Linked DNA regions of Homo sapiens: regions 2 and 3 are each reported to be linked to region 1. The links are microRNA targets in miRTarBase. Many come from high-throughput screens and were not tested one by one. Region 1 holds a microRNA gene; each other region holds the end of a gene's coding sequence.

Region 1 (8,046 bases):
GAGTCTAGCATGTGTTGAGTGCCTACTATGTGCCAAGCATGGCAGTAGATGAGACTTCTTCAATCTCCTGTTCCAAATCTCTGCTGTCCACAGCTATCAGGATGCACTCAGATGCTTAGAAACAGGAAAACAAGGAGAGCTGGGGAGCACCAAAGGGCCTCTGTAGTTTCCTGGGAAAGCAGGATAAACAGTGTTAAGAGCATGAGCCCTGGAGTTGGACAGCTTAGGTCAGATCCCTACTCTATCTACTTACCAGGTATTTAACCTCCTTAAGTCTCAGTTTCTTCATTAGTAAAAAGGGGATAATAAGAGTACCCACCTTGGAGGGCTTCTGTAAGAAACTAAAGCATTTATATGCTGCTGAGACATAGTAAACATTCAACATATGGCAGGCTCTTAATATTATTTCCTCTTCTATCCGCGAACTGCCTGAGATGTTTTTTCTAGCTGGGCATTGGTTTAAAAGTCCCCGAGACTATGTTAGACCCAGGGTGGGATTGTTTTTCCAGGGCTCCTTGCAAGGAACTAGGAGAACTCTGGCAGGAGCACCCTCCGGGAGCAGCAGGGCCTCCTCAGGTGGGTTGTTTGTGGTCAGACAGGTCCTCCCAGTTCCCTCCACACTGAGAGCATTGGAGAGAAAAGAGCAAAATGAAGTGATTACCCTGAGGTACAGGCCATACTGAACACTGTCTGTGAAACAATGGTGGGGTTTGGGGTCCTCTTTGGCACTGACTTAATTTTTTCCTAAGCCCATGGGCTTAGGGGCCAGAAAAGCACCAGGTACTGCGTTAGCAGTGTCCCTCAGGCCAGATGCAGTGGCTCGTGCCTGTAATCCCAGCACTTTGGGAGGCTGAGGGTGGAGGACCCCTTGAGCCTAGGAGTTCGAGACCAGCCTAGGCAACATAGCTAGACCCTGTCCCATTTATATTAAAAAATAAATTTTTAAAAAAGAAGTGTCCCTGAAAGAGTTAACACCAAAAGTATTTGCTAAAGATCTTAAATGAAGTAATTTTTTTTCAGTTACTTGCATAGGAGTAAATAATAGTAATAAGTAACACCTGCTGAGCCCTTAAATGCAGGCATGGTGCGCTACCTGCTTTACATTGAGTTATGTGACCCACCTGCATGTTTCCTCTCTCAGACCAGGTCATCATCTGGTGATGGGGTGGGGGTACAGTTGCTATACCCTCATTATGAATTTCTTTATTAACCTTAGTCCTGTTTACCTCTAACCTAGAGGCTTCTGAGCAAGCGCCCTCCTGTCTGCCATGCTCTCCTCTGGGCAGGTTTAGCTGAGAGCTGGAAGCAGAGATGAGTCAGACATGAGTACAGTCTTGGTCTTTAGGGGCTTTTATCCCACAGCTGATTGTGGCTAGAGGGGGTGGGGCTGTTTTTAGCCCAGCTTGCAGCCTTACCCCCTGCTGCTTGCAGCACCATCAGAAGCATACCTGCTCCAAGAGAGAAAACAGACTTTGACCACAAAAGGACACATGCTTCTCTTTTGCATGTCCTCGGATGCCTACTTGGGATCGCATGGGTGCTGAGAAGATGCTGTTGATGGTTTGCCCTGGTTGTAGCTGCATTTCTAGGGGTGTGGCCTAAGCCAGGCAGTCGGGGTGAATAGGGCTTCTCCTTTCAGAGGTTCTTCCAAGAAGGGAAAATCGTGTGCCCATTGATTTTGTTTCCACCACAATCTTTGTCCAGGCCATCCATCACCTTTCCCCCTGAATCTACAACCCCTTCAGGGGTGTCTCTGTTCCCACCCTTCTCCTGTCCTATACAGTCTGCACTTGATGGCCCAGAGCAGCCTTCCTCTGACTGTTCTCATCAAGTGGCTATAACCACAGTGCTCACCCAAGGCACACTGGGGGAAATTCAAGCTTCTCCTGCCCTTTTCCTAAAATACTCATGACCACCAAACACTATTTATTCCAGTATATCTTGTGGAAGGGGGTGTTGCTGAGTATTAAGCAAAAAACTTTATTTTTGTATATTCAAACTTATGGAATAAGTTCAGGAAATACTGAGTTAAAAGGGTTAAAGTGTTGGTTTTTCAACTGCAGGACTTCTCAGACTCTTTGAGATGCTGATGTACACAAGGGGTATGGGCTGCATGTTTCTACATGCTGATTTGATATAGAACCCTAGATAGAGCATCTCGCAAGACCAGTGGTCCCTGGAACCCAGCTTAGAAAACACTGCCCCAAAGAAGTCTCCTGAGAAAAATGTATTGCTGTTGATCTTTCAGCCTTCGTCACTGCTATCCTTCCCCTAAAGGGCTTGCCTTCAGCCTCTCTACCCATCCTGGTTCCCCCAGTGCTTTGGAACCAGGACAGACACACTCTGCTCCTAATAAGCATTTCATAGTCAGCCCCAGCCCAGAGCTCTCCTTATCATTCATTCATTCATCAAATATTTTTTGAGCATTTACTTTCTTCCAGGAGCTGTGCTAAGAGATATAGTAGCAACCAAGGAACATTCCAGTAGGAAACAGACAGGTAAGTAGATGGGTTTAGTATAGTGTGAGAAGTACAATACAAACACACCCAAGGATAGATCCAGATTGAGTCTTGGACAGTCGGAAAGACTTCCAGGGGAAAAAAAATGGCATCTTTTCTTCATTTCCACACTTAGCAATTTTTCTATATTGGTTTGTCATTTATTCATTTAATCACCAATCATTTATTGTGGGCTGGGCACTGTGCAGAGATAGTAATCAGACTTGACTTGAGGACGATAAGAAATCACTGAAGGGATTTTAAGCAGAGAAAGGACATGATCTATTTACACTGGTAGATGTCACTTTGATTGTAGGAAAAGTGGACCGGCCAGGGCAAGGCTTGAGGCAGGAAGCCAGCTAGGAGACCACTGCATGAACCCACATAAAAATGAGGACCTGGGCTAGGGAAGTAGCAGGAAAAGTGGATTTTGACAGATATCTAGGACAGAGCCAACAGGACTTGGACAGCAATGGGATGTGGGGGAGTAAGAGGGAATAGTTTAGGATGATGTTCTTTCCCCCATCCTCCTTACGTCCCACCCCCCACTCCTGTTTCTGGTGAAATATTCAAACAGGAGTGGGGGTGGGACATAAGGAGGATAGGGAACACAGGATGAAGGGCAGGTTACAGGGGTCCACGTGCGAGGGGAAGATAATGTGTTCAGTTTTAGACATGCTGAGCTCATGATTCCAATTCCTTTGGACATTCCAGTGGAGATATCTGGCAGGCTGATTTTTCTCACGAGAGAAATCATGTCTGGAAATACAGATCTGAGAAGCAGCAGCAACATATGGGTGGCCACCAAAGCCGTGGACTCAGTCAGCACCATTAAGCCAGAGTGATGGGTGAGATGGGTGACAAGGGCCCCCCTTGCAGCAGGTGGGTGACAAAAGAAGAATCAGTGTTGCAGCATGGGAAGGACTGCCCAGAGAGAAAGGAAGTGAACCAGGAGAGGATCTAGAAAAAGGACACTGGGCAATGAGAGCTTGGAGCGGGCCTCTGCACCAGGGGAGGGGTGGCTTTGACTGGCAGATACACATGTCTAGTACACGTGGAGGGTATGAAAACTCCAGGGAAAGAGAGGGGCAGCAGGAGCTCCCTCTTTTTGTAAAACAGGCTTTCTCTTAGGCGTAGCCTTCTAACTGATCTGCCCCACTATCCTCAACCCACTCTCCACTTCATAGCCAGATAGGTCTTTTCAAAACACATCTCTGATCACATCACCGCCTCTCCCCCAGCTCTATTAAAAACCTTTGGATATTTCTATGGCTCTTAGCATGCAGACCAAACTCCTACCTGGCCTGGCCTCTACTTCCTTCTCCAGGTGCACCTTCTGCCAGACTCTCTTGCTCTCTCCCCTGCAGCCAGCTGGCTTCCATTCGGCCTCGCAGACTCGTTGCATGGGTGTTACATTGTTGCTGTCAGAGCCATGTCCACCCTTCCCATCCCGTGGTCCCCCGATCTGCTCTGTGTCACTGGGGGCTGTTCCAGGCTCCAGAGCCAACTGCCTTCCAGTAAAGTTCAGCCAATGGGGAGTGAGGGAGGGCAAAAGATATTGGAGGTGAAGGAAGGAGAAGCCAGAGTACTTCTCCTGCTTCTCTTTCTCAGGAGTCTCTTCTGTGGCTGCAGTTCCCACTACACAGCCATCTCTGTGTGATCCCTGCTACCCATCTTGGCAGGCCCTCTTTGTTCCAGCTTATCTTGTCTTAGGCTCCAGAAACTGTTTCTTTCCTTGTTCTCCAGCTTCCAGGGTGGTGCTATGGGTTGAATTGTGTCTCCCCTGCAAGTTCATGTGTTGAAGTTCTAACCCCCAGTACTTTAGAGTGTGACCTTATTTAGGGTTGTGGTCTTTATAGAGTAGCCGAATTAAAGTGAGGTCATTAGGGTGGACCCTAATCCAATATGAATGTTGTCCTTATAAAAAGGGGAAGTTTGGACAGAGATAGACACACACAGAGGGAAGACGATGTGAAGAGACATAGGTGAAAATGGTCATCTACAAGTCAAGGAAAGAGGCGTGGAACAGATCCTTCCCTCATAGGCCTCAAAAGGAACTACCCCTTCTGACACCTTGATTTTGGACTTCCAGCCTTCAGAACTCTGAGACAATAACTTTCTGTGTGAAGCCACCCAGTCTGTGGCACTTTGTTACTGCAGCCCTAGCAAACAAATACAGTAGTCCCAGCTTCCTGGAGTTGCTACTCTCAGGGTTCCCCTGGGAGCTCTTTCAACTCCTCTGACTCCCCGTATGAAATTCCCTCTATCAAATCACCTAGAGTGGGTTTTGCTTTCCTGGCTGGGTCCTGACTAATATGCCTGCCATGATCCTTTCTGCCACAGAGGACATAGTGCTTCCTCTGCCTGGTATTTTTCCCCCTCTCATCTTTACCTAATGAACTTTCCCTAGTAAACTCATCTAGGTCATAGGTAAATGTCACTTCCTCAAGAAGGCCTACCCCTGTATAGTCATTACCAGCTCTTATGGCTCCAAGCACCACCACTCATGGTTTTGATTTTATTTCTGTGTGTGATTATTAGTTAATGTTTTCTTCCCAGTCCATCAGGAAAGGTAGTCTTTTTTTTCTTACCACTTTCCCCAGAGCCTAGGATGATGCCTATAGTAAATATTTAATACACAGTCATGTGTGACTTAACAACGGGGATACCTACTAAAGAATGCATTGTTAGGCAGTTTCGTAATGAGAGCATCAGAGTATACTTACACAAACCTAAATGGTGTAGCCTGCTACACACCTAGACTATCTGGTCTAGCCTATGGTTCCTAGGCTACAAACACCTATAGTACGTTACTGTACTGAATAATGTGGGCAATTGTAACATAGTAGTATTTGTGTATCTAAGCACATCTAAACATAGAAAAGATACATAAAAATATGATACTATAATCTTAAGAAATCACCATTGTATATGTGGTCCCTCATTCACTGAAACATTGTTATGTGGCTCCTGACTATATATTTATTGAGTGAACGGAGGAAGGGTAGTATAATTTTGTAGATAATGCTAGTATTTATGTGCCAGTAAAGTTCTAAGCATCTTACAAATATTGCATTTAATCCTTTAATCCTCATAACAATTTATGGGATAAGTAATATTACCTCTATTTTACACATGAGTAAATTCACTTATGATCCCATAGCTAGTAAGGATTTGAACCCAGGGACTCCAGCACCAGAGCCTGAACTCTTAATCACTGTTATTCTGGCCTACGCTGTTCTCCCATGTTTTAGCAAGTCTACAAATTTTGTTTGTGCTAGCTTGCTATTATACTATGCCTTGTACCTCTTATTTGCAATGAATTATGTTTAACTTGACATGATATTAGAAAATTTCCTGGACAAATGTTTTCTATGCCAAATAGCACCCCAATAATATGCACCTTGAGTTTTAGCAAAAATTTGGTGACAAACCTATGAATACACAGTCCCAGGATGGTGAGGTTCCTGGGTATCTCACCATCTTTTGTGGTTCTGTGAAATCTGCCCACCTCTCTATAAATCATCCCCTCATTAAAATCCCTTCAGCTAAACCCTTTGGGAATGCCATCTTCCTTCTGGGACTCTGGCTGATACCCTGCAACTTCCTGGGAGCATCCCCTGGCTTTCTTATGTGTTTATGGCACGTGACATTACCATGTGACTGCAGTAGCCTGGGCTGCCTCTCCTGTGTCCGGCAGCTGTTGGCACCACCTTATGTGTGGAGAGTGCCCTGTGTGCTCAGAACACCCCAGGTACTATGGGGAGATGCCCTGGACCAAGACTCTTCATATTTCATGAGCATTACAGCGCAGAGGAAATCAATTTACACTGGCTTATTTGTGGTTTAAAAATGATCCAGCTGGGCATGGTGGCTCATGCCTGTAATCCCAGCACTTTGGGAGGCCAAGGTGGGTGGATCATTTGAGGTCAGGAGTTTGAGACCAGCCTGGCCAACATGGTGAAACCCCCACCTCTACTTAAAAAAATAAAAAATAAAAAAATTAGCCAGGTGTGGTGGTAGGCACCTGTAGTCCTAGCTACTCAGGAGGCTGAGGCAGGAGATTTGCTTGAACTCGGGAGGCAAAGGTTGCAGTAAGCCAAGATCATGCCATTGCACTCCAGCCTGGGTGACAGAGGGAGACCCCATTTAAAACAGAATAAAAAGAATGACCCTAAATCTTCTTCAGGTTTCAGACAAAATAGCAGTTTCTAGAGGGCACAGCCTATGTCCTGTTGTGGTGCATATGGAGGACTACGGTGGCCATACCTTTTTCTTGCTCACTCATTTGCCCATCTTCCTTTGCATGTTAACAGCTGCCCACTGTTCCTGCTGAGGGATTTTTCCTGCTCTATTCCATTTGGTGGAGTAAGGCACAGTGGCATTCCTCTTGGCAGCTGAGATTGGGTCAGGGATGGGACCTGCCAGATGTAATGAAACGACTTTTCCTAGTGAGGTCAACCTGCTAGGAAGATGGGAGTCTGTGGATAACCATCTCGTCTGTCTGAAGCATAAAGTCGAGACATGCAAAGCCAATAAACTGAGGAGACAGAACCTAGCAACATCATTCAAGACCTGGATCCCACCATCCCTGAAGCCAGTGAATACCCTGTATTCCACAATCATGCAACCCAATAAAGTCCTCTTTTGCAGCCGTAGCATGTTTGAGGTTGGTTTCTTCACTCATATCCAGAACATTCCCACTGATAGAGTTGTGGAAGCTTCTTGCTGTCTCCAGTGTACCTTGTAGTCTCTCTTCTAAAACTTTGTTTATACCAACTGTATTTTAAGCTCACTCCCTTATTATACATTGTCTTGTTCAATCACCTGTATCACAACATTTAAAATCTGGGTTGTTTATTAGCCTGTTGTCTGTCAGCCCCACACTCATGCCTCTGACTCTGGGCTGTAAGGTTGAAAACTACATTTCCCAGGTTCCCTTGCCAGCTGGCTTCCAGTAAGAGGCTCTGGCAGAGAAATGGAAAAGGAAGAGAAGCCACTGTTCTCTCTCCCCATCCCTGCTTTGGGGCACCTCTGAAAATTTCTGAAACCCCTTGATGACCCCAGCTTCAGCCAAAGCAGCCTCTGCTCAGTGGTCACAGCTCTAGCCTGGGTGGTCCCTCTTCAGTGGTTCCTGCACTGTCAGCAGTTGTAACAGCACCTCAAACAAAGCAACAGCATGTACACTTGGACTCTAACACCACCTTCCCCAACGACCATTTTCCTGTCATTATTATTCTCTGGTTACCTTACATTTTTGTTCTTTCAGCCCTTTTAACACTTTTGTAACTAATTTCCTGTATGAAACACTCTATTTAAAACATCTGCCATGATTCCTGTTTGCCTGACTGGAATCCTGATTGATACAGTGTATATTGTACATTACCTAACTCACTAGTAATTTCAGATGTGAACGAAGTTTCTTCTTAACAGGATGATGAGTTTCTATTGGGCAGACTGCATATGTGTCTGTCACAGACACAGTGTAGGACTGAACATATAACGTGAATCTGTACATACTTAATGATATAAGACAACCCTTGTCTCA
Region 2 (5,000 bases), not on the chromosome of region 1:
CCTCATTTGAAGAGCTCCACGATGTGGACCACTTTGAAATTGTTGAGAATCTGACCCAGAAGGACAACGTGCTCACCCAGGTGGGGCCTCATCCCTGGCAGCCCTTTCATGGTAGACAGCACAGGTCCTGTCGCAGCCCCTTAGATGTGCAAACCAGGAGTTCAAGACCAGCCTGGCCAACATGGAGAAACTCCGTGTCTACTAAAAATACAAAACAAATTAGCCAGATGTGATGGTACGTGCCTGTAATCCCAGCTACTCAGGAGGCTGAGGCATGAGAATTGCTTTAACCCAGGAGGCAGAGATTGCAGTGAGCCAAGATTGCACCACTGCACTCCGGCCTGAGCGACAGAGTAAGACTCTGTCTCAAAAAAAAAAAAAAAAAAAAAAGACCTGAGAACCTAGGAAAGAAAGAACCTAAGAAAGACCATCTTGTTTCTTTCTTTTTTTTTTTCTTTAGAGACAGGGTCTCCTCTCTTGCACCCAGGCTGGAGTATAGTGGCAAAATCTTAGCTCTCTGCTGCCTCCTGGGCTCAAGTGGTTATCCTGCCCCAGCCTCTCGAGTAGCTGGGACTACAAAGGCGTGCCACTGTGCCCTGCTAATTATTCAATGTTTTGTAGAGATGGGGTCTCTCTATGTTCCCCAGGCTGGTCGTCGTCGTCTTCCTTCTTCTTCTTCCTCCTTCCTCCTTCATCTTCTTTCTTCTCCTCCTCCCCCTACCCCCCCTTCTTCTTCTTCTTCCTTCATCTCAGCATATTATACCTCTAACCAGACTGTCTTCAACTCCTGAGTTCAAGTGATCTTCCCACCTCAGCCTCCCGAAGGGTTGGGGTTGCAGACGTGAGCCACTGCATCCAGCCCTGTCTCATTTCCTTAATCAAATTCCTGCAAAGAGCTGCTCTGATTCTGGGGCTTTTGTGTCTTCTCTTCCTGTTCCAGATTATCTTGAAAACAATCTTCCAGTAGTTCTGACGATACTTGGAGCCTGGTCCACGTGCATCCCACCTTGGGAAGCCTCTCCAAAGAGCTTTCGGAGCTGACACTGACAGCTTCAGTTTCCCCCAGCACCCAGGAGAGCCTTGCTGTGTCTGTCTGCCCGGCAAGAGTCCATTCTCACTGCTGGGACACTCATGAAAATCTCCACGTCCTCCCTCTTCCCAGCCTGGATGGAGCTCCAGGGCTGGGGAACGTCCGCAAGTCAATGCTCAGAGATGCCCGGAGCTGCCTCTTAGACTCGTCTGGCCCATCTACCTGCTGACAGAGCATGACAAAGATGACGCTCAAAAGTAATGCCATTACTTCTTTTTTTTTTTTTTTTTTTTTTTTTTTTGAGATGGAGTCTTACTCTGTCACCCAGGCTGGAGTGCAGTGGCGTGATCTTGGCTCACTGCAACCTCCACCTCCCGGGTTCAAGCAATTCTCCTGCCTCAGCCTCCTGAGCAGCTGGGACTACAGGCGCCTGCCATCATGCCTGGCTAATTTTTGTATTTTTAGTAGAGACGGGGTTTCAACATATTGGCCAGGCTGGTCTCAAACTCCTAACCTTGTGATTCGCCCGCCTTGGCCTCCCAAAGTGCTGGGATTCCAGGCGTGAGCCACTGCGCCCGGCCAGAATGGCATTATATTTAAATAGTTCATAAAGAAGCACAAAAGAATATTATTTCATAACATGTAAAAATTATATAAAACGTAAATTTCCATGTTGATAAATAAAGTTGTATTGGAACACGGCCCTGCTCGTTCATTTACGTATTGTCTAGGGCAGCTTTCAAGCTGCAGGGTGGAGCTGAGTGGTGGTGACAGTGACCTCCTGGCCCGTAGTGCCTGAAGCATTTCCTATCTGGCCCTTTTCAGGAAAAGTTTGCGGACCCCTGGGTAAGGGCTTCCCCAAGCCAGCTACCCTCTGCCTTCTGCTTCAGTCTCCTGTCTGCTCTGTCCTCCATCTCCCTGACATTTGGGTCTGTCCCTGAATGCCCCGGGGTCTCAGCGTTGGGGCCAACACCTTGACCTTGACAGGACAATGCTACCCACATGTAGGACAAGCTTCCTCTGCACCCGAGAGTGGTGTGCATGTCCCAAGAAGCCAGCTATATCCATCCACCACCCACCCCACCACACCGCCTCTTTCTCTCACACCGAATAGCATTCAAGAATTTCCACTGTGGGCTGGGCGCAGGGGCTAGTGCCTGTAATCCCAGCACTTTAGGAGGCCGAGGTGGGCGAATCACCTGAGGTCAGGAGTTCAAGACCAGCCTGGCCAACATGGCAAAACCCTGTCTCTACTAAAAATACAAAAATTAGCCAGGCGTGGTGGCTGGCGCCTGTAATCCTAGATACGTGGGAGGCTGAGTTAGGAGAATCTCTTGAATCCGGGAGGCAGAGGTTGCAGTGAGCTGAGATTGTGCCCCTGCACTCCAGCCTGGGTGACAAAGCCAGACTCCATCTCAAAGAAAAAAAAAAAAATTCCACTGTATGTGTGCAGCAAACCATCATGACACACATTTACCTGTGTAACAAACCTGCACATCCTACACATATACCCTGGAACTTAAAGTAAAAGTTGGGGGGGGGGGTAAAAAAGAATTTCCACCGTGACATTATTGAGTATAGCAAAAAAAAAAAAAACAAGAAACAGCCTAGTGTTCATTAGGGAATAAACGCATTCAAGCAGCATCAAACCCTGCAGCCATTACAAAGAGATCTATGTTGACCATGTGGAATATCTCCAAGAGCCACAGTAGCCTCCCTTATCTGTAGGATTCACTCCAAGACCCTCTGAAACCATGGATAATACTGAACCCTATATACACTATGTTTTTTCTTGTATATACATACCTACGATAAAGTTTAATTTATAAATTGGCAAAGGGTATATAAATATTCCTTCTAAGAGATTAACAATAACTAATAAAGTAGAACGATTAAAACAATATACTGTGATCAAAGTTATGTGAAGCCAGGTGCTGTGGCTCATGCCTGTAATCCCAGCACTTTGGGAGGCTGAGACAGGTGGATCACCTGAGGTCAGGAGTTGGAGACCAGCCTGGCCAACATGACAAAACCCCGTCTCTACTAAAGATAAAAAAAATTAGCCGGGCATGGTGACACATGCCTGTAATCCCAGCTACTTGGGAGGCTGAGGCAGGAGAATCGCTTGAACCTGGGAGGCGGAGGTTGCAGTGAGCTAAGATCACACCATTGCACTCCAGCCTGGGCAACAAGAGTGAAACTCTGTCTCAAAACAAAACAAAACAAAACAAACTTATGGGGTTGCTCTCTTTCTCTCAAAATATCCTTTTTTTGGCAGGGCACGGTGGCTCATGCCTGTAATCCCAGCACTTTGAGAGGCTGAGGTGGGTGAATCACCTGAGGTCAGGAGTTCAAGACCAGCCTGGCCAACATGGTGAAACCCCGTCTCTATTAAAAATACAAAAAATTAGCTGGGCGTGGTGGTGCAGGCCTGTAATCCCAGCTACTTGGGAGGCTGAGGCAGGAGAATCACTCGAACCCAGGAGCTGGAGTTTGCAGTGAGCCGAGATCATGCCATTGCACTCCAGCCTGGGCCACAGAGCAAGACTCCATCTCAAAAAAAAAAAAAAGAAAAAAAGAAAGTCTTTTTTTTTTTTGAGACTGTATCTCACTCTTTCTCCCAGGCTGGAGTGCAGTGGCCCAATCATGGCTCACTGCAGCCTCGACCTCCCAGGATCAAGTGATCCTTCCACCTCAGCCTCCCGAGTAGCTGGAAGTATAGGTGCACGCCCGACTGATTTTTTTTTTTTTTTTTAGACGGAGTCTCACTCTTGTTGCTCTGGCTGGAGTGCAATGGCAGGATCTCGGCTCACTGCAACCTCTGCCTCTTAGATTCAAGCGATTCTCGTGCCTCAGCCTCCCGAGTAGCTGGGATTACAGGTGCCCACCACCATGCCCGGATAATTTTTTGTATTTTTAATAGAGACAGGGTTTCACCATATTGGTCAGGCTGGTCTCAAACTCCTGACCTCAGGTGATCCACCTGCCTCAGCCTCCCAAACTGCTGGGATTACAGGCGTGAGCCACCGGGCATGGCCTTTCCTGGCTAATTTTTTAAATTTTTGATAGAGATGGGGTCTCAGTGTTGCCCAGGCTGATCTTGAACTCCTAGATTCAAGTGATCCTCCCTCCTTGGTCTCCCAAAGTGCTGAGATTACAGGCGTGAGCCACCGCCCCGGGCTGGAAAATACTTTTTTAAACGAGGGCAATGTGAATCTGAAATGCCATTTGAGGAAAGATCTGTTCGCCTGACATCCTGTTTGAGCCTGGGTGGACAGGACAGCACCTGCCAGCATCGGGAAGCACTGCAGATGGGAAGAGGCTTGGTCACTCTCCAAAGGTGGCAGGAGTTGGAGGGGGTGAGCTGAAGGTAAGGAGAAAGGAGGTGGGGACCCAGGAGACAGGGGCTGCGCAGCGGGCTCGGGGCTGACACCCCCACGGATACAGTTCACTGGGGCTCAAACATAAAAGGAACCCAACTATTGTGGGAGGAAAAGACTCTTCTGCCTTTCTGCCTTTTCTTTTTTTCTTTTTCTTTCTTTCTTTTTTTTTTTTTTTTTTTGAGACAGAGTCTTGCTCTATCGCCCAGGCTGGAGTGCAGTGGCGTGATCTCGGCTCACTGCAAGCTCTGCCTCCCGGGATCACGCCATTCTCCTGCCTCAACCTCCCGAGCAGCTGGGACTACAGGCGCCTGCCACCACACCCGGCTATTTTTTTGTATTTTTTAGTAGAGATGGGGTTTCACCGTGTTAGCCAGGACGGTCTCGATCTCCTGACCTTGTGATCCGCCCGCCTCGGCCTCCCAAAGTGCTGGGATTACAGGCGTGAGCCACCGCGCCTGGCTCTTTTTTCTTTCTTTTTTTTTTTTCCGAGACAGAGTTTCACTCTTGTTGCCCAGGCTGGAGTGCAGTGGCGCAATCTTGGCTCACTGCAACCTCCACCTCCAGGGTTCAAGCGATTCTCCTGCCTC
Region 3 (7,729 bases), not on the chromosome of region 1:
ACCCTCACCCCCATCCCCAACCACTTGCCCAGGTGCATCATATTCCCCAGCCCCATCTGACCCCCATTTCTTTGTCCCACCTCACTCACTCAATCATCCCTGGCCACCCTGCCACCTTTCTCGCTAGCCATCCCATCCACATCATTCCCGCCTCAGCCATCCATCCTGGGCCCTTCACCTTTCACCCTGTCCCACATGCTGCCCTCTACCCCACCCTACTTGCTCCACGGCCTGCTGCAGCAGCTGCCACTGCACTTCACCTTCACCCACTACTTCACCCCATCTTCTCAGGTCAGGACCTGCAACATCCCCCCAGCCATGGCACGTGAGTTGGGGGATGGGATCCTAGGTAGGGCCAGGGGAGGAGACCCATAAATGTTCCCTTGGGGGTGTTGAGCCATTAATACCAGCAAGTAGAAGCTGGGATGGGCAGTGTCTGACAGCCAAAGAATTGAGTTTTGGCTTGCAGGGGTGGGTTTAGATTTGAAGTTTGCTTTCAGTTTACTATCAGGGATTTCTTTTTCCTGTCCTCCTCTCAATTTGTCCCTCCCTCTTCTGTGTTTCTAAGCTAGGGAACACCAGTAAGTGCTACCCACCCCTCTGCAGCAACATCTCCAAACTGTCAAGTTTAGATAATCCCCTCCTCCCTCTGCTTTTTTCCTCTGCTCTTCCCTTCTGTAAATTTTAAAACATTTTCCTCCCCTCTGGCCAGTGGGTTGTCACCAGAGCACTTGCTGTGGGCCCATCTGGTCTTGCCTTCTCAGCGCCACAGGGAAGGCCAAGCTGTTCTAGTGGTGGAAGTGCCACCATTTTGGGGTAGTATCTTTGACCATCTTTGGTGACGTTACGTTATCCCAGGTGAGGTGGAAAGCGTCTCACCTGGAACCTGATATAACTCAGGCTGCAATTCCATCCAGTTCCCACATCAACGGAGCCACACATTTGGCACTGTTATCTTGGTATCCCTCATCCCAGAAGAGGCATCTCCATATCCCAGAAAAGAAGATCCTATCATGAATAAAAGCTGTATGGCCCAGAGAGGAGCTCATGTGTCTAAAGTGAAGGGTATATTTTCTTCTGTTGTGTTGATGTTTCCTTCTTAATTTATAGGATTTTTTTAATGTAAAAAATTGCACTGAACTCTATAAACGTAAATGCTGCTTTTTGTAGCTCATATAAAAAAGGTTCCATATTTGTAGTATACTGCAATAATATTTTTTACATCCAGCTCTTTAAGTGATCCTCGTTCTGGTGGCTTTGTGTAAATATGTTTGCCCTAGTTGAATTAAGAAACTCTAAAGGTTATAAAATGAAAACAAAAAATAAAATATTTGTTTTCTGCTAGATGCAAAACTGACTAAGCATGTATATTTTACCAAACTTATGTATTTTTTGAAGTTATGAACTATAAAATGTTAAAACATTTTTTGCTGGGACAAAATGTTAAGTAATTTGCAGTATGTAGTGCCCCCAGTATTGGGATTTTTGAGCTAATGGGCAGCAGTCAGCTGGGGGCTTCTGAGGGATGCTCATCTTTAACAGTCTCCCTCATGTACTTTTGCTGTTTTACACAGAGAAACAGGTAGACCCCACAGAGGAGAAGGAGGGGATTCAACAGCTTTATTGTCTGGAAGCAGTGAGATTTGGTGATTGTCTGGGGGGATTCCTGGGTTTCCCTGGGTACCTTGTTCCAGGCAGTCAGTCCATTTGCCTTCCTAGTACTTAGCCCCCTCTGACAATTTTTTTTTTAATGTGCCTTTTGGGTTGGTAGAAACGGAAGTAGAAGTAGGCTGGAGGATGAGTTGGGACAGTCTTCCTTTTGTTGGGAGGTGAGCACATTTACAGATATTTTGCTTCATAGTTTCCATGCCCTCTGCCCAGCTCAGTTTAGACAGTAAACGTTCCTTGTTTCTTTTCTCCCATGACACTGACAAGAGGAATTACCACCTCAGCCTCTTTTGCCCCTCTTCTTGCCTTTCACCCAGGCTCTCAGCCCTAATTAACACACTGACCCAAAGGTGCTTGTGTTGCAGGTCCCATCTCCTTTGATGAGGTTAACAATTCCCACTTTGGCATTTTCCTAACTATTCGTGTGGCTAGAATTGGTTGGTTGGTCACTTGACAAGAAAAACCATACTTACCTGGGCCAAGGCTCTGTTCCTGCCTTCGCAAATTCTCAAAAGAGTAAAGTTTATGAAAAGAAAGTGGCAGGCAAACACAACTCTTGACTGCCCTCCCACCCTCCTACCTGTTCAGTACTCATCTGATTCAGAAGCATCACTTCTTGGATAACTAGCACTGGAAAAATGAAATCATCTGTGTAAGTGAAGGGACTCATTTTTCTTTGCTTTCAGCCCATGTAAATAAATAATACAGTATTAACATTTTCGTGCTGCTTCCCATTAGCTTGTAGATTGAGCCATACTCTGGCTGCCTCTTTGCCTTCCTAGGGGCATTTTCTTTAACTTCCAGAATAGTGATTTTAAAAGTAAAAATAAAAATAAACCTTACTTACAAGCATAACAGATTGTATTTAACTTTATCACATATGATAGAGATATATATGCTGTAAAATGAGGGAAAGGAACTTTCTAATAAACCAATGATTTGTGGAAACTTAGCAGAGTCTGTCGTAATTGTTGCCCCATCCACTCAAAGTTAGGTAGGGTTGGAGGTGTGGGTTATAAATAACATCTTGTTTGACATGACCAAGGAATAGATTCCTGTGAACCAGTTAGAGATGTTTGCAGTTGTGCTTCTGAAAGCTCAGGCTACGCAAAGAGAGAGGAAAGATGATGGTGTGGGAGGTGGTAATAGTAGTTAATTTCTCTCAGTTGTAGGTAGATGTATTGGGATGTACACCTCCTTTCCACTTCCTCTTTCCCACAAGAGGAAAGATTTCCTTCCATTTTAGATATATAATCTGTGTGTAGTAGAATATATGGTGTATATATAGGTGCTTACTAAATGGGTGTGGAATTTCTGGCTTTGAATTTTAGGATTTTGGACTACTTTAAGGGCACTGAGATGACAAGAATCATCTGCCGGACTTTTGTCCTCCAGGTGGAGTTCTGTATGCCAGTCTTCAGTTACTCTCCTCAGCCCTTTAATACCACTACAGTGTTTGAGCACCTCTACTTGGTATAAGGAAATATGGCCTAATTGTTACAGAGAAGATATAACCCCTACTCTTCCATATCAAAAAATCACAAAAGAGGCAGGGAAAATTTAGCATGGAAAGCTACCATAGAGTTGTAGTGATAAATTAGCTTTCCCTCTCAACCTCAGCCTTTCAAGAAGGAAAGGCTTTCTTTCCTACTGTCTTTTGATACATTTCTTTCCTACTCTGTTTGATACATCTGTGTTCTCCCTTTGATTAAAGAGGAGCTGTTCAACTTGAACCTGGGGTTGAGTACTCAGATCTGCCTATATTCCTAAAATAGCAAAGATCCTTACCCAGAAAGAAATGACATTAGACCTACAAAAATTAGCCGGGCGTAGTGGCACACGCCTGTAATCCCAGTTACTCGAGAGGCTGAGGCAGGAGAATCGCTTGAACCGGGAGGTTGCCGTGAGCCAAGATCACACCACTGCACTCTAGCCTGGGCAACAGCGTGAGACCCTGTCTGTCTCACACACACACACACACACACACGTTAGAAAATGAAAAGTGAGGCCAGGTGTGGTGGCTCATGTCTAATCCCAGCACTTTGGAAGGCCAAGGCAGGTGGATCACTTGAGGTCAGGAGTTTGAGATCAGCCTGGCCAACATGGTGAAACCCCATCTCTACTAAAAATTTAAAAAAAAAAAAAAAATTGGCCAGGCATGGTGGTGCATGCCTGTAATTGCAGCTACTCAAGAGGCTGAGGTAGGAGAATCGCTTGAACGTGGGAAGTGGAGGTTGCAGTGAGCCAAGATCATGCCACTGCACTCCAGCCTGAGTGATAGAGTGAGACTCCGTCTCAAAAAAAAAAAAAAAAAAAAAAAAATGGGCGGGGCACGGTGGCTCAAGCCTGTAATCCCAGCACTGAGGCCGAGGTAGGCGAATCACGAGGTCAGGAGAGATCGAGACCAGCCTGACTAACATGGTGAAGCCCCGTCTTTACTAAAAATACAAAAATTAGCCAGGCATGATGGCGTGCGCCTATAATCCCAGCTATTCAAGAGGCTGAGACAGGAGAATCACTTGAACCCGGGAGGCAGAGGTTCCAGTGAGCCAAGATCATGCCACTGCATTCCAGCCTGGGTGACAGAGTGAGACGCCATCTCAAAAACAAAAAAAAAGTGATTTTCTGAGAGCAGGGGAGGTGACAAGTCAAAGAGGCAGACTGGACTGTATAGAGTGTTATGTGAAGATACGTGCAGTTAATTGCCTTGTTCTGATAAGGCCTCAGCCACCTTGGCCTGAAACATGAAAGTACTCCCTCTTCAAACCCTTGATGACTAATTCAGGCCTCGTCAGCCATTTCCATTCTTATTTGCCAAAGACAGCTTCACTCACTTCTACCAACTCATATCTCAATTTTTGCAGCATTTTCCTGGGTGGCCTTCCTGACTAGAACCTAATTTCCTGTTCTGTGTAAGCTTACTGGCTTTTCAGAATCTGAATGCAGCTCATTTTGTATTCATTGCTTCCCAGTAAAATTGTAATCTCTGAGAGAACAGGGAGTGATTCTTATATCCCCCCACCGCAGCCCCCAACGTATCTCACACTGAATACATAGTAAACATTTTGATTATATGTTCAAGAATATGAGCAAAGTGGCCAGGCACAGTGTCTCATGCCTATAATCCCAGTACTTTGGGAGGCCAAGGCAGGAGGATCTCTTGAGCTCAGAAATTCGAGGCCAACCTGGGTAACATAGCAAGACCCCATCTCTACAAAACAATTTAAAAATTAGCTGGGCATGGTGGCACAAGCCTGTGGTCCCAGCTATTCATGAAGCTGATGTGGGAGGACTGCTTGAGCCCAGGGGTCAAGTCTGTAGTGAGCCATGTTCAGGTCACTGTACTACAGCCTGGGTGACAGAGCAAGATCCTGTCTCAAAAATAAAAAGAATATGAGCCAAGTAAAATATCATTAACTGAGGATTGTGCATCAGAATTGAGCCAAAAAAAATTCAAAAATGTGTTTTTTGGTTTTTGGTTTTTTGGGTTTTTTGAGATGGAATTTTGCTCTTGTTGCCCAGGCTGGAGTGTGATGGCACGATCTCGGCTGACCGCAACCTCCGTCTCCCAGGTTCAAGCAATTCTTCCTCAGCCTCCCAAGCAGCTGAGATTATAGGTGTGCACCACCACACCCGGCTAATTTTTGTATTTTTAGTAGAGACAGGGTTTTGCCATGTTGGCCAGGCTGATCTCAAACTCCTGGCCTCAAGCGATCCGCCCACCTTGGCCTCCCAAAGTGTTGGGAGATTACAGGTGTGAGCCACCATGCCCAGCAAAAAAAAAAAAAAAAAAAAAAAAAATTGTTTTTTAGGCATAGTCTTACTCTTGCCCAGGCTGGAGTGGAGTGGCAAAATCGTAGTGCACTGTAACCTAAAACTCGTGGGCTCAAGTGATTCTCCTGCCTCGGCCTCCTCAGTAGCTGGAACTACAGGTGTGCACTACCGTGCCTGGCTAATTTTAATTTTTTTGTAGAGACAGGGTCTCACTATGTTGCCCAGGCTGGTCCCAAACACCTGGCTTCAAGCAATCCTCATCTTGGCCTCCCAAAGTGCTAGGGTTACAGGCATGAGCCACCAAACCTGGTGTAAAAAATCTTTATAATTTTATTTTTCTTTTCTTTCTTTCTTTTTTTCTTTTTTGATGGAGTCTCACTCTGTCGCCCAGGCTGGAGTGCAGTGGCATGATCTTAGCTCACTGCCACCTCCGCCTCACAGGTTCAAGCAATTCTTTTGCCTCAGCCTCCCAAGTAGCTGGGATTACAGACACACACCACCACGCCCAGCTAATTTTTGTATTTTTAGTAGAGACGGGGTTTCACTAGGTTGGCCAGGCTGGTCTCAAACTCCTGACCTTGTGGTCCACTCGCCTGGGCCTCCCAAAGTGCTGGGATTACAGGCATGAGCCACCATGCCCGGCTAAAATCTTTATGATTTTCCATCCCCCATGGATTAAAGTTCAGATTCCTTAATATGGCATTCAAGGACCTCCAGTAATTTGAATCCCCAAGCTTTACCCCCTTGCGCCTCAGTCCAACCCTTTAAGCATTCTGCTATGCTGAGTCAACTACTTGTCCTTCCCTACCTCTGTGTTCCTTTGCTGCTCTCATGTATTCTCTATGCCTAAAAACCCTTTCATTCTCTGACAAAAGGCAACTTGAACATGAGTTCAAGTGCAACCCATGTTTGAATCTTAGTTTTGCCATCTGTTGGCTGCGTAAACATGGGCAATTTACCTAAAACTCTTGTGCCACAGTTTTGTGTTTATAAAATGGGCATAATAGTACTTATTTCCTAGGGTTGTTATGAGTAACAATGATATACGACTTTGATAATCTGTGTATTTTTCAAGGCATGCTTGACTGTCTCTCTGCTGCAGTTATGTGTGTTCATGTCTTAACTCTTTCTGGGCTGTTTGTTAAGTCTCCTTGATGGCTATCTTTGGAGTTTTTAAAATATTTTATTTTTTATAATTTTAAAATAGAGACGAGGTCTCACTGTATTGCCTAGGCTGGTCTTAAATGCCTGAGCTCAAGCCATCCTCCTGCCTCAGCCTCCCAAAGTGCTGGGATTACAGGCATGAGCCACTATACCTGGCCTAATGGTTATCTTTGTATCCTTTATCAACACAGTGCCTTGAACAGAGTAAATACTTATTGAAAACTTGAGTGAAATGTAAGTTCATATTTGGCCTCACAGAATACACCAGTAATACAGCAATCACTCACCTGAGGACAGTGGGAGGATAGAAGGTAAGTAGAGGACTGGGTTAAGTATTCGTTCAAGCAAATACATTAATTACACGCCTCCCATGTACTTGACACTGGGAACTCAGCAATGAAGAAGGCCCAGACCAAAGTTCAGGCTTTTAGCTTCCTGTCCTATAAAGGATAAGATTCTTAACTCTAGGCTGAGGTAGTAAATTACGAGGGGACTTCAAAATGGTACAGGGTGGTTGAGCAGGATACGGCAATGGTTAAGTTTGATCAGAAAATAGAAATCAAAAGGAAAATGTGGCTATGGTTACCCCTAGCGGACCTCTTAAATCTTCCTGAGAACCTGCTTTTTTGGGAAGGCATGAGTGCCAGTAAGACTTGGCACTCCTCCTCTTCCGCTTACCGAGAGAAAATGACTTTGCCTTTCTGCTCAAAACTCATCCCTTCACTTTGTCACCCTATGTTTGCATCTTCCATCCTTAGTGTGTGTTTCCATCCAGTCTTTCAGCAATACACGTACTACACATTGGACTCTTGGGTAGTCTCTAGGGCTGTAGCAAGGAGCCTTGCTCCCAAGGGACTCATTTACACAATCCTGTGAACGGACCAAGAGTAAACAGTGTGCTCAATGCTGTGCCTACGTGTGTTAGCCCACGCGGCCAGCCTGAGGAGTCAGGGAAGGCTCCCCTAGGCAAAGCCCCCAACCAGAATCAAGTCTTAATGGTTAAAGAGCTCCATCACCCAAAAAGGATTGAGGGCCTACCTTCAACTGAACAGCTAATGCATAATCTCAGAAACTGTGAGTCAAAATTCCCTGGAATAACTCCACTTTATCCCCAATCTCCTTG

The links. Region 1 holds the annotated microRNA hsa-miR-4433b-5p (AUGUCCCACCCCCACUCCUGU, at 3,072-3,092, opposite strand). A microRNA usually pairs through its seed, bases 2 to 8, with sites in the 3' UTR of a target mRNA and lowers its output. Matches are read on the target gene's strand: a 7mer-m8 pairs with bases 2 to 8, a 7mer-A1 pairs with bases 2 to 7 and ends in A, and an 8mer does both.
Region 2: the mRNA of AFMID is a reported target of hsa-miR-4433b-5p. Seed matches in the 3' UTR shown: 7mer-m8 at 1,122-1,128.
Region 3: the mRNA of GPATCH8 is a reported target of hsa-miR-4433b-5p. Seed matches in the 3' UTR shown: 8mer at 1,432-1,439 and 7mer-m8 at 1,804-1,810.

Annotation. Positions count from the first base shown.
Region 1 is chr2:64,337,738-64,345,783 of GRCh38, forward strand. It overlaps MIR4433B (microRNA 4433b), which reads right to left and starts at 3,111; the gene lies at 3,010-3,111. It overlaps MIR4433A (microRNA 4433a), which reads left to right and starts at 3,022; the gene lies at 3,022-3,102. LOC105374768 (a long non-coding RNA gene) reads right to left here and starts at 3,972. Exons shown (of 3, transcript NR_189739.1): 1 at 3,798-3,972; 2 at 320-620; 3 at 1-170.
Region 2 is chr17:78,205,971-78,210,970 of GRCh38, forward strand. AFMID (arylformamidase) reads left to right here. Exons shown (of 11, transcript NM_001010982.5): 10 at 1-80; 11 at 941-1,732. The coding sequence ends at 967. Among named protein-coding and RNA genes, the nearest start is that of BIRC5, 5.8 kb to the right of the region's middle.
Region 3 is chr17:44,390,168-44,397,896 of GRCh38, reverse strand. GPATCH8 (G-patch domain containing 8) reads left to right here. Exons shown (of 8, transcript NM_001002909.4): 8 at 1-2,616. The coding sequence ends at 329. Among named protein-coding and RNA genes, the nearest start is that of ITGA2B, 4.4 kb to the right of the region's middle. RefSeq lists an enhancer at 1-417.